Homo sapiens: one gene and its partners. The protein of the gene in region 1 purifies or fractionates together with the protein of each later gene. This does not show direct contact. Each region holds a gene or a part of one and is shown in the gene's direction. Other genes may lie near its edges.

Evidence for each region. The genes of interacting proteins can lie anywhere in the genome.
Region 2: the proteins of CABP4 (region 1) and SPTB purify together in Homo sapiens (affinity purification with mass spectrometry; one large-scale study listed by BioGRID and IntAct). This does not show direct contact.
Region 3: the proteins of CABP4 (region 1) and DCAF6 purify together in Homo sapiens (affinity purification with mass spectrometry; one large-scale study listed by BioGRID and IntAct). This does not show direct contact.

Annotation. Positions count from the first base shown.
Region 1 is NC_000011.10:67,453,854-67,458,153, forward strand, and holds the start of CABP4 (calcium-binding protein 4), read left to right. Parts: upstream 1-1,500; 5' UTR 1,501-1,570; coding exon 1,571-1,936; intron 1,937-2,252; exon of another isoform or gene 2,253-2,283; coding exon of another isoform or gene 2,284-2,334; coding exon 2,335-2,365; intron 2,366-2,445; coding exon 2,446-2,589; intron 2,590-3,719; coding exon 3,720-3,829; intron 3,830-4,300. UniProt on the Homo sapiens protein: Involved in normal synaptic function through regulation of Ca(2+) influx and neurotransmitter release in photoreceptor synaptic terminals and in auditory transmission.
Region 2 is NC_000014.9:64,869,908-64,873,407, reverse strand, and holds part of SPTB (spectrin beta chain, erythrocytic), read left to right. Parts: intron 1-729; exon of another isoform or gene 730-1,086; intron 1,087-3,500.
Region 3 is NC_000001.11:167,939,683-167,943,182, forward strand, and holds part of DCAF6 (DDB1- and CUL4-associated factor 6), read left to right. Parts: intron 1-3,500. UniProt on the Homo sapiens protein: Ligand-dependent coactivator of nuclear receptors. Enhance transcriptional activity of the nuclear receptors NR3C1 and AR. May function as a substrate receptor for CUL4-DDB1 E3 ubiquitin-protein ligase complex.

The DNA of each region.
Region 1 (4,300 bases):
AAGGGAGGGCTCTGGTTCCCATGGGCCCAGGGGACCCGAAGGTAGGGAGTCTGGGGCAGTGGGAACCCCCTCCCCTCCAGCGAGTGTCACTCATGGGCTCAGGATGAGGTCTCTGAGCCTCAGGACCCCACAGCCTGGGGTCAGGAGGGCCATCCTAGGAGCCCCTGGTGCCTCTCCAGCATCTTCCACCCCACCGCGGCCCTCTCCCGCTTCCCACAGCTCAGGCAGGAGGTGACCCCTGTTTGTCTCCTGGAGCTGCTAAAGAGAGGGGGAGGGGCTCTGCAGTGGGATGGTGGTGGGATGGTGAGGGTGAGGGGAGTTGGAGGGCACCCAGACCTGGGATCCAAGAGGCCTGCAGCCCCACCTCGCCCTTCCCCGCTGGCAGCGGGGAGGGAGTTTCCCTTTGAGGGCGATGAGAGCCCAGGTGGTGGTATAGTCTGGGGAGGGAACGGATGCCCTGAAGGGCTGGCCCCTGCCCACGGCCCACGGCTCCAGCCACTTGGCCTTTAGTTTGGTGCCCTCCGTACCCTCAGGGTTCCTCCTCAGGCTGACCCCCTCTGCTGTCTCCATTCCCTATTGGATCAGAGCCCCAGGCACCCCGAGACTGGGGCCCTGACCAGTGAGGCCTGGCTTACCTGGGAGGCAGAGGCCGATGGGTGGAAGGAGCAGGAGCAGGGCGTGCCTGCCTGCCCAGCACTCCAGCTGTCCCCCCGGCCCTCACTGGGGCCTGCTTTGTGGCACCCGGCAGCGCTAAGGCGGGTGGGCAGGAAACCCAAGCTGAGAGGACATCAATTATTTATGGGGCTGCTTGCTGGGAAACCCTAACCCTGGCCCAGTAGGGCCAAGTGACCAGCCAGACCCCCTCCCCCAGCCCTGATGGGCCTGGACAGTCAGACCCTCCTCCCCAGGGCCTCTCTAGCCCAGAGCAGACTCTAAGACCCCAAGGTCCACCTCCTCCCACATCACCCCCCGTGCTCCTCAAAACGGCATTCGAGGCATCTGTGATCTGGCCTCTTCCTCCATTTCACACACCCTCTGCTCTGGCCAGGATGTCACCCATGGGGGGGCCCCAGTAGGCCACTCGCTCATCCTTTCCCACCTCCCAGCCGTTGTCCGCATGCCTCCTGCCACCTGAGATGCCTTCCCTGGTCCTCTCTGCCTAACGAAGGCCTCTGCCCATGTCACACATGAGCTGAGTCTTCTGCGCTCTAGCATTATTCCCCATGTTTTATAGATAGGGAAACTGAGGCTGGGAGGGGAATTTGCTGGATCCCCCAGCTAATAAGTAGCAGATCTGGCATCTGAGGCTCATGGCAGCCACCACGTCCTGGTGCCCCTTGCTTCTGACCAAGGACAGTTCTCTGGACCCATCTGGCTCTGCCCTGGCCAGCCCTGGGGCAGAGGACTGGGATTAGGGCCAGGGCTGCCTGCCTCACTTACCCTAATCCCCCTCAGAGCCCGATCCTAGGCTCTCAGCTCTAAGAGTGGGGGTGCATAAGCAGCTTTATGGGTCCTGAAAGCCAAGGGTGCCCAGGGGTGTGGTGTCTCTGAGCCCTGTTATCCCTCCCCCATGACCACAGAGCAGGCAAGGGGGCAGCAGGGCCCAAATCTGGCCATTGGCCGTCAGAAGCCCCCTGCGGGGGTTGTGACTCCCAAGAGTGATGCAGAGGAGCCCCCGTTGACCAGGAAGAGGAGCAAGAAGGAGAGGGGGCTCCGAGGGTCTCGAAAGCGCACTGGCAGCTCTGGGGAGCAGACAGGCCCCGAGGCCCCGGGGAGCAGCAATAACCCTCCCAGCACTGGAGAGGGGCCGGCGGGCGCACCCCCTGCATCCCCTGGGCCGGCCTCTTCTCGCCAGTCCCACCGACATCGTCCTGACTCCCTGCACGACGCTGCTCAGAGGACATACGGGCCCCTGCTCAATCGAGTCTTCGGGAAGGTTAGGTGGGACCTGGATTGGGCTGGGGGTCCTGGGGGTGGGGCTGGAGACACACCCCTTGGGCTCAGCTCACCCTGCCCCTGAGAGGCCCTCTGCCTCTTCTGCCCCAGACTGAGCCTGGGCTGTGGGGCAGGGTTGCTGCGGTTTGGGGAAGGGTAGGTCTCGGGCCAGCGTGGGCGGTGGGCAGAGCCAGAATTCACACCAGGGCTCTGTGGGAGCTCCAGGCTCTAGGAGCACAAAAGGGAGCTTGCTCCTCCTGGGTCCCACGAGGCTTCAGGGTCCTTTTCCTACTCTGATGGGGCTGGGCCCTGCCCAGGCCAACATGAGCAGGGGATGAAGGAGGAAGGATGACAGAGCCGTGGCTGGCCCTGGGGACATCCTGGACTCTCCCCCTGCAGGACCGCGAACTGGGCCCCGAGGAGCTAGACGGTGAGTGGCTCTTGCTGCTGGCAGGGGGTGGGAGCTGTCCCTGAGCCTGGCCACCTGGGCTTGACCTCCCTCCTCCACAGAGCTTCAGGCCGCCTTCGAGGAGTTTGACACTGACCGTGACGGCTACATCAGCCACCGGGAGCTGGGTGACTGCATGCGGACCCTGGGCTACATGCCCACCGAGATGGAGCTCCTGGAGGTCTCGCAGCACATCAAGATGCGCAGTCAGTCAGGGAGCCCGCCCGCCCGGGCAGCCTGCGTAGTTCAGGGGGTCACGAGGGGCTGGCAGGAGGTGGCCCTTGGGAGTCCATCGGGGTGCTAGTGGGAGTGAGGGAGGGTGGCGGTTTCCAGGCAGGGGCACCGGGTTCAAGCTCCTGCCTCTCTGTGTGGGAAGGCAGGCCAGCAAGGCGGCCCGGAGACCCAGGAGAGCCCCTTGGGGCTCAGGTTGAGGACCCTGGCTCGGGATGTCTGTTGCCATGGCCACTATACACATTTGCTCCTTTCACCCGAGCCCTTCCTGCCTCGCTGGCCCAGAAGCCCCTGACTCAGTGATAAAGTGCTGTCCGCTGATACTAGTCACCTGGCACCTTCTCTCTTTCTCTCTCTTTCTGTGACCCTGCCTCAGCCCTGTGCCCTGGTGGCAGCTGCCTGAATTGGGGTCGCCCTGATGGGAGAGGACCCCACCTATGCCTTGCGACTCAGTGTCTGATGGCAGGAACTGTGTGGTTCCCCTTCGCTGGTTTGTCCTCAGACAAATCTCATATTCACTTCATTCCAGGACTCCTGCATTTTTTCCTTAAAATTCCCAAAATGGGGATGTGATTTACAATTGAGCTGGACATTTGGTGTCATGCTTTTCTGTCCCCAAAGCTGTTGGGTGACCATGAGTGCTTTGAGTGACTGATGGCATCTTAGAACTGAGGCACGGACCACATGGGTGTGTTCGGAGGTGGCATTTATTGCTGCCCACTGGGCTCCAGTACTTCATGGCCATGAACCTGAACCCCATGGAGTAGGCTCCTCACCCTGCTCCTAGGATGAGGAAGGGAGGGCAGTAAGTCAGCCAATGCCACGCACATCAGCAGCAGGGCCAAGATTTGAACCGGGCACTATCTGGCTCCAAAGCCTGGTCTCTTCCTTGCACACTTGGGTTCTCCACTAAGAGCAGAAGCAGCCCTGGTACCCCAGCAGCCAAGGACGGGGGTTCCAGCCTCCTATCTGCTGCAGGCGTGGACACGGGTGTTTCTTCCTAGGTGCAGAGCCTGGGGGTGGGGGTGCCTGGCCTGTGGGATGTCCCTCCTTGGGCTTCAGACCTTATGCCCTCACCATTGTGACACTCTTCCTGGGTCTGCAGTGGGCGGCCGTGTGGACTTTGAGGAGTTTGTAGAACTGATAGGCCCAAAGCTGAGGGAGGAGACGGCGCACATGCTGGGGGTGCGAGAGCTGCGCATCGCCTTCCGAGAGGTGCGGAGTGTGGTGAGGTGGGCAGAGGGGGGCAGGGCTGGGTGGCATCCTTGCTGGCCTCTCACTCAGGTCTCAGCCTTGGGAAGGCCTAGAGCCCTGCAGGCGGTGGGACTGGGGCCCAGGGATGGGTCAGAGATGGTTCAGATCACTACCAGCTAGAGGATCCGTCCAGGGGGACTTCCTGGAGCAGGAGGCAAACCACCTTGGTGTGGGAGGGTGTGGAAGGTGTGCATGGGCAGAGATGGTGGGCAGGGGAGCATCTAGGTACAGGCAGCGGTAAGAGTGGAACTGGCTGGCCAGGCGCGGTGGCTCACGCCTGCAATCCCAGCACTTTGGGAGGCCAAGGTGGGCAGATCACCTGAGGTCAGGAGTTTGAGGTCAGCCTGGCCAACATGGCAAAACCCCATCTCTATTAAAAATACAAAAATTAGCCAAGGGTTGTGGTGGGCACCTGTAATCTCAGCTACTCAG
Region 2 (3,500 bases), on another chromosome or scaffold:
AGCCTCTTTTTGTCCAGTGATCTTGAGGGCCTTGATTTGTATGTCAGTCTTCAACAAATATTTACTGAGTTCTCATTTAATTTGCCAGACATGCTGTAGGCCCAGGGAATGTAACAGTGAATGTGGCAAAAATGTCTGAAGTCGTAGAGTGCACATTGTAGTTGGGGGAGAGAGGAACTAAATGACAAGCAACAGACAAAAATATATATTGTAATTTCAAGTGCTAAAAAGAAAAATAAAGCAATATGAAGGGAAAGAAGGGTGGTTCTACTATTTCAGGTAGGGTGGTTGGGAAAACACTATCTGATGGGGCTTCATTTGGGCTGAGACTCAAATGAAGTGGGGAGAGAGGCATGGGATGTTTGGGAGAAGAGATTCAGGTTGAGTGGTAGTCTGTTCTCACACTCCTAATAAAGACATACCAGAGACTGAGTAATTTATAAAGGAAAGAGGTTTAATTGAATCACAGTTCAGCATGGCTGGGGATGACTCACAATCATGGCAGAAGGCAAAGGAGGAGCAAAGGCATGTCATACATGGTGGCAGGCGCATGTTCAGGGGAACTGCCCTTTATAAAACCATCAAATCTCATGAGACTTCTTCACTATCACGAGAACAGCACAGGAAAACCCACCCCCGTGATTCAGTTACCTCCCACCGGGTCCCTCCCACGACATGCAGGGATTATGGGAGCCGCAATTCAAGATGAGATTTGGGTGGGGACACAGACAAACCATACCAAATGGGAAGCCCCCAACGTGGGGCCACTGCTGTGTCCAAGCAATAGCAAAGAGGCCAGTGTGGCCTGAGTGCAGGGTGTCATGGGGAGAGCTAACCACAGTGCTGGAGAGAAAAGCGGGTCTTGATGGTGCAGGCTTTGTGACCTTTGAGTTTTAGTCCAAGTGTCATAGGAAGCCACTGGAAGTTGTGGGCAGGGGAGTGACTTGTTGGGATTTGTGTCTCAAGCAGATCTTTCTGGCGGCCCTAAGGAGGATTGATTGTGGGGCACAAGAGTGGAGGCAAGGAGTCCCATGAAAGCTACTGCGGTGGTTCAGGACGAGAGGATGGATCAGGATGATAGTCCTGGTGAGATGCAGTTGGGTTCTGAGTATAGAGATTATGAGATTTGGATATAGAGGATGAGAGAAAAAGAATAAGATGATTCCATTGTTTTTGGCCTGAACAACTGGATGAACAAAAAGGTCGTTTACTGAGATGGTGATGTATTTTATCAAATGTACCATGGGCTATTTTTTTTTAATTTCTGTTTTTGTCGAGGTGTTGACTTGGAATAGTCTTGGCAGACTTTTCATTTAAATACACCAAAAAGGAGATGTTTTTATTTTGGGATGATTCATGACATCTGTTTGAAGCGAAGCTTTAGATGTGCTGTGTACTTTGTACTGTTACTTTTAGATCAGTCCCACAACGTTTATACTATGTGATGGAGATTAAGATATGGGAGAAACAAGATTGAAATATATTTCACTTTATTTTTAGAAATGTTTTGAATTGGCTGGTTAAAGCCCAAATATTTTTTGATGCTTCCTGGTTGTCATATTTAAAAAACTTTTTAAATTATAAAATAAACTCATGTACGTGGTTAAAACATATATCCATATTATACAAGGGTATACAATGAAGAGTAAAAGTCTTCTCCTAACTTCAGCCCTATTTCTAAGAAGGTACCACTGTCAACAGTTTCTGTGTATGCTTTGAGAAGAATTCCATTCATGTGCAAGCATTTGGCCTGATACATTTTAAAGTCATAGCTTTAAGCTAGCAGCACCACGTGTTAGGTTTCAGATTTAGTAGACTTTGTAGTCACCTTGGTAGCCCTCAAGTTAAGCGACCTGGAGTCCACTTTCTATCAACTAAGGATCTCCCTCTCCAAACCATCCCACACTGAACCACTGTGTTCATCATATAACACCCCTTCTCAAAAGCCACCAGTGGTTCTTCTCTGGGTAGAGGTAGAAATCCAAACTCATAAAGTTGGCTTTTAAGGAGCCATTCTATTCTGGCACCAGTCTCTTTTTTTCTACTCTTTTACCACTTTCCATCACAAACCCTCTACTTAAACTAAGTTTGTCCACTTCTGCTTACTGAGTCCTGACCATTTCTCCCAGATTTGGAGTGTTTTCCATCAGAACTTGGGTTCGAGGCTGTGTCTTCGTCCTGGAACACTCCACTCCACAGTAATCTCTCCCTTCTTCAAACTTGCTAAATTAGGGCTAGATACATGCACCCTATTTGAACATAATCACAAATTCTTTTATTAACTTTCTTTGTATATGTGTATTATTTGCTCAAATATATGTGACATAAATTTTACCATTTTAACCATTTTTAAGTGTACATACAGTTCAGTGGCATAAGCACATTCACATTGCTGTGCAGCCATCACCATCATCCCTCCCCATCATCATGAAAAAGATGGACGTTTTTCATCTTCCAAAACACAAGCACTGTGTCCACTAAACACTAACTCTCCATTCCCTCTCCCTCCATCTGTCTATGGACACTTGGGTTGCTTCTACTCTTGCCTATTGTGAATAATGCTGCTGTGAACATGGGTGGGCAGATATCTCCTTGAGACCTTGCTTTCACTTCTTTTGGACATATACCTAGATGTGAAATTGCTGGATCACATAGTAATTCTATTTATAATCTTTTAAGGAACCCGTCCATGCAATTTTAATATTTCCCCTTGGTATTTAACATCTCCAAAGGGAAGGGCAAAAATTTATTATCCTCATTTTGGGGGCCAAACTGAACTTGAGAAGTGTTTGTTTCAGAACACTGTCTTTGGGTGATAGTTCGTCATCAAAGTTCTTGAATTTGTTCATTTATTAGTGTGCCTGTTTTTAGATTGTAGACTTTTAGAGGACAGGCAGGTGATGTTTAATTTGCTTTGTAGAGCATGTAGCCCAAGCTCAGGTGGGGAAGGGTGTAAATATTATGCGATGTTTTATTTCAGCTAAAAAATCTCCTTGAGCTGGATGACAAGAGTCTGGGTTGCTTCCAGCTCCTTTCCTCTTGCTGTTTGCCCTTGGGTGAAGAACTTCCTCTTTCTCTGACTTTTTTTTTTTCAGGGCTTTTTGTGTGTGTGATTGTGATGGTGCCTTAACATTTATTATTATCCTTAAAATTTTCCTTGTGGATTCCTCTGTAAAACTTACATGTTGCCTTCTCTTTGTAACCTTGCCTGACAGCCCCTCTTCCTTACCAGGTCCTGGGGTAGCGCTGATTGCTTCCTCCTTTGTATTTTTACAGTACCCTTTTCACTCCTTTCTTACAGGTGGATCATCTTGTTTTGTAATTGTCAACTTGCCTTCTACACTGTTAGTTCAAGCTTCTTGCAATGGGGAACTGAGTCTCATGCTTAAAAACAAAACAAAACAAAACCTCTGCACCTAGAGCCATGTTTTATACATGGAGGGGAGTGGCTCAGAAATATTTGTTGATTAAAAAATTAGGCTGGAAACATCAGCTCATGC
Region 3 (3,500 bases), on another chromosome or scaffold:
AACTTGGGAAGTGGAGGTTGCAGTGAGCCAAGATTGTGCCACTGCACTCCAGCCTGGGCGACAGAGGGAAACTCTGCGTCATAAATAAATAAATAAATAAATAAAGTATGGTACACTTATAAAGCCTTCCTTTTAAAAGTCAAATTCCAAGTTAGGATTTTCCTAAGGAAATAGATTCCTTTTTTAAAAGACTTCAATATTTAAACATTACGATTGTCTATCTACAGGGTTGTAGATTTAAGTATTTTTCTGATACATTTTCATTATTTGTATTTCTACAGATTTTTTAGCAGTGAATTACTGCTAAATAGTAAAATTGGGATAGAACAAATAGATAAATTTTTCTTGTAGCCTTTACATTTCCAGTTATTTCACCATAGCATGTGCCCTTTCAATGTTAATATTCAAGCTTTGTAATTGATTTTACTTAAACTGATTAATTATCTCCTTTCTTCCCATCAAAGAAAATTATACTTCAGAAAACTTCCTATTATGTTGTGGGAATGAAGATGAATAATTTCCCAGATGTTATTTATGATTAAAAGATATGTTTACTTAGAGCTCCCAAATCCACAAGATTCACCTGGGCCAACAGAGTGTTGTTTTAGACTAGCATGGATTTAGAGGATAGGCCAGGGATTTTAATCTTTGTGAGCCCTATCTAAATTTCAATGTAGGATTCTTTTTTTTGGTGGGAGGCGGGGGGCAGGGTGAGGCAGGGTTTTGCTCTGTCTCCCAGGCTGGTGTGCAGTGGCACCCTCATGGCTCACTGCAGCCTCCACGTCCTGGGCTCAAGGCCATCCTCCCACCTCAGCCTCCTGGAATTTTTTTTTTTTTTAAAGAATAATTATCAAAGTCAGAGATACCTGTAGGTTTAAATGTTTAAATGTAATAGTTTCTCAAATTACTGTATACTAGGTGTAGAGTAGTGCTTTTGGAAATCAGTGATTTATTAGCCACACAGATTTTATTATCCCATATATATACGGTTTTGTAAAGATAAACATTGTTAATAAAATAAACTTATTTCAATACATTGCTTGTTTCTACTCATATTTCTTTCCTTTTGGACAGACACTCCTACAACTTTCTAACCCTTCTAAATTAAAAGATAGTAATTGATAAAAAAGTAATTTTAAGGTACTTCTCAAGGGAGTTATTTATTATAATGTATAAAATGTGTAAATTATGATTAGGCAGCCAGTGACAATTTTTTAGTGGAGATTGAATCTCATCTTTTTGTAAGGAGTTTATGAAGTCAGTGTCCTTTGAATATCATTAGAGTCAGTATGTACTGAAATGGATAATTTTGCGTGTCGATTACTCTTTAGTGCATCTTGAATACATCTGCATTCTAGATTACCAGGTTCTTCATAATATGTTGCCAAGTTACAGTGTATTTATTATATGAAGATTAGTAACTTCTGACTTTTGCCTCTTTTTTTAGCCATTGGGGAAAAGTTAGTGAAATATTTGTATTTTGTTTCTTTAGTCTTGAAATTTCAGTGAAAGCTGAAAAATGTATGATTTTAGTATTGAAAAATGACGGTCAATTGTGACAAACGTAAGATATACTGATAATTCCTTAAGGCAGGACACCAAAGGCATATAAGTAATCATAACAACCATAGACACTATGATAGCTCTACTGTGGGTTTCATTGCTTCCTAAAATAGGATGAATCAAGTTATAAGTGCTTAGAAGGTTTAGAAGCTTCTGGTAGCATGGAGCTTATGTTACAAGTATGCTTTAGGTCAGTGTTTTTAAAATGTTTTAAAAATGATCCATGATAAAAGTACATTTATGTGGCAACCTGTGATATACACAACGAAAATAAAGGATTCTCTAGGTGTATATATAAACCTTACTAGATGGGATGCATTCTGTTTTTTTTCATATTGTTACAACTGTTGGTGTTGAACTGGTAGAGTACGCACTAATGAGTCTCAGCTTGAGGTTTGGAAAATTGTTCTAGATGGTGTGTAGTTCTTGTAATTTAATGTTGCTTCAGGTTTAAGGTGGGCAGGCTTCCCCAAGTACTTGAAGGAGATTAAAAAAATTTTTTTTTAAACACTGCTGATGGCTCCACAGGGAAAATGTAAATAGTGAAACTTCATGTACATCTTGGACAAAATAACTAGGGTCGAACACTTTTAAATAGATATCTATTGTGGGATTGCTGACTTGTATGGTAAGTATGTTTAACTTTATAAAAAACTTCCAGACTGTCTTCCAAAGTAATTCTACCATACTGCATTCCCACCAGCAGTATATGAGAGTTCCAATTGCTCCACATTCTCATCAGCATTTGGTGTAGTGAGTCTTCCTAATTGTAGCCTTCATGGTAGGCGTGTAGAAATATATCATTGTTTTAATTTGCATTTCTCTTTTTTTGTTTTTGAGACGGAGTTTCGCTCTTGTCGCCCAGGCTGGAGTGCAATGGCATGATCTTGGCTTACCGCAACCTCTGCCTGCTGGGTTCAAGAGATTCTCCTGCCTCAGCCTGCCAAGTAGCTGGGATATGGGCATGCGCCACCATGCCCAGCTAATGTTGTATTTTTAGTAGACATGGGGTTTTGCCATGTTGGTCAGGCTGGTCTCGAACTCCTGACCTCAGGTGATTGACCTGCTTCGGCCTCCCAAAGTGCTGGGATTACAAGCATGAGCCGCTGCGCCTGGCCTTTAATTTGCATTTCTCTAGTGGTTAATGATGTTGAGTATCTTTTGTGGCTTTTGTTTTTGTCATCCATATAGTCTGGTTAAATGTTCAGGTTTACCTTTTTAATATTGTAAGAATTCTATAATTCTTTATATAACAGTCCTTAATCAGATATGTACTTTACAAATATTTTCTGTCAGTTTATGTCTTTTTCTTAACAGGTTCTTTTATAGTTCATACTTTTTATGTCCTATCTAAGAATCTTTACCTAATCCAAGGTAACAAAGATTTTTACTTTTTTTTTCCTGGAGATTTTATCTTTTTACCTCTTACATTTAGGTCTGTGAACAATTTCGAGTTAAGTTTTACATATGTTGTAAGAGTCAAGTTTCATTTCTTTGCATATTAATGTGCAATTGATCTAACAGTGTGTGGAAAGACTACTTTTTTCCCTTTGTTGAAAATCAATTGACCATAAATGTTTAAGTCAATTTCCTAGCCACATTCCATTGATCTAGCTTCATGTCTTTATACCGAGGATTGAAATCAGCTAGTGTGATACTTTAAACTTGGTCTTTTTTTTGAGACAGAGTCTTGCTCTGTCACCCAGGCTGGAGTGCAGTGGCTCGATCTTGGCTCACTACAAGCTCCGCCTCCTGGGTTCACACCATTCTCCTGCCTCAGCCTCCCGAGTAGCTGGGACTACAGGCACCCGCCACCACGCCCGGCTAATTTTTTTGTATTTTTTTAGTAGAGATGGGGTTTCACCGCGTTAGCCAGGATGGTCTCGATCTCCTGACCTTGTGATCTGCCCGCCTTGGCCTACCAAAGTGCTGGGATT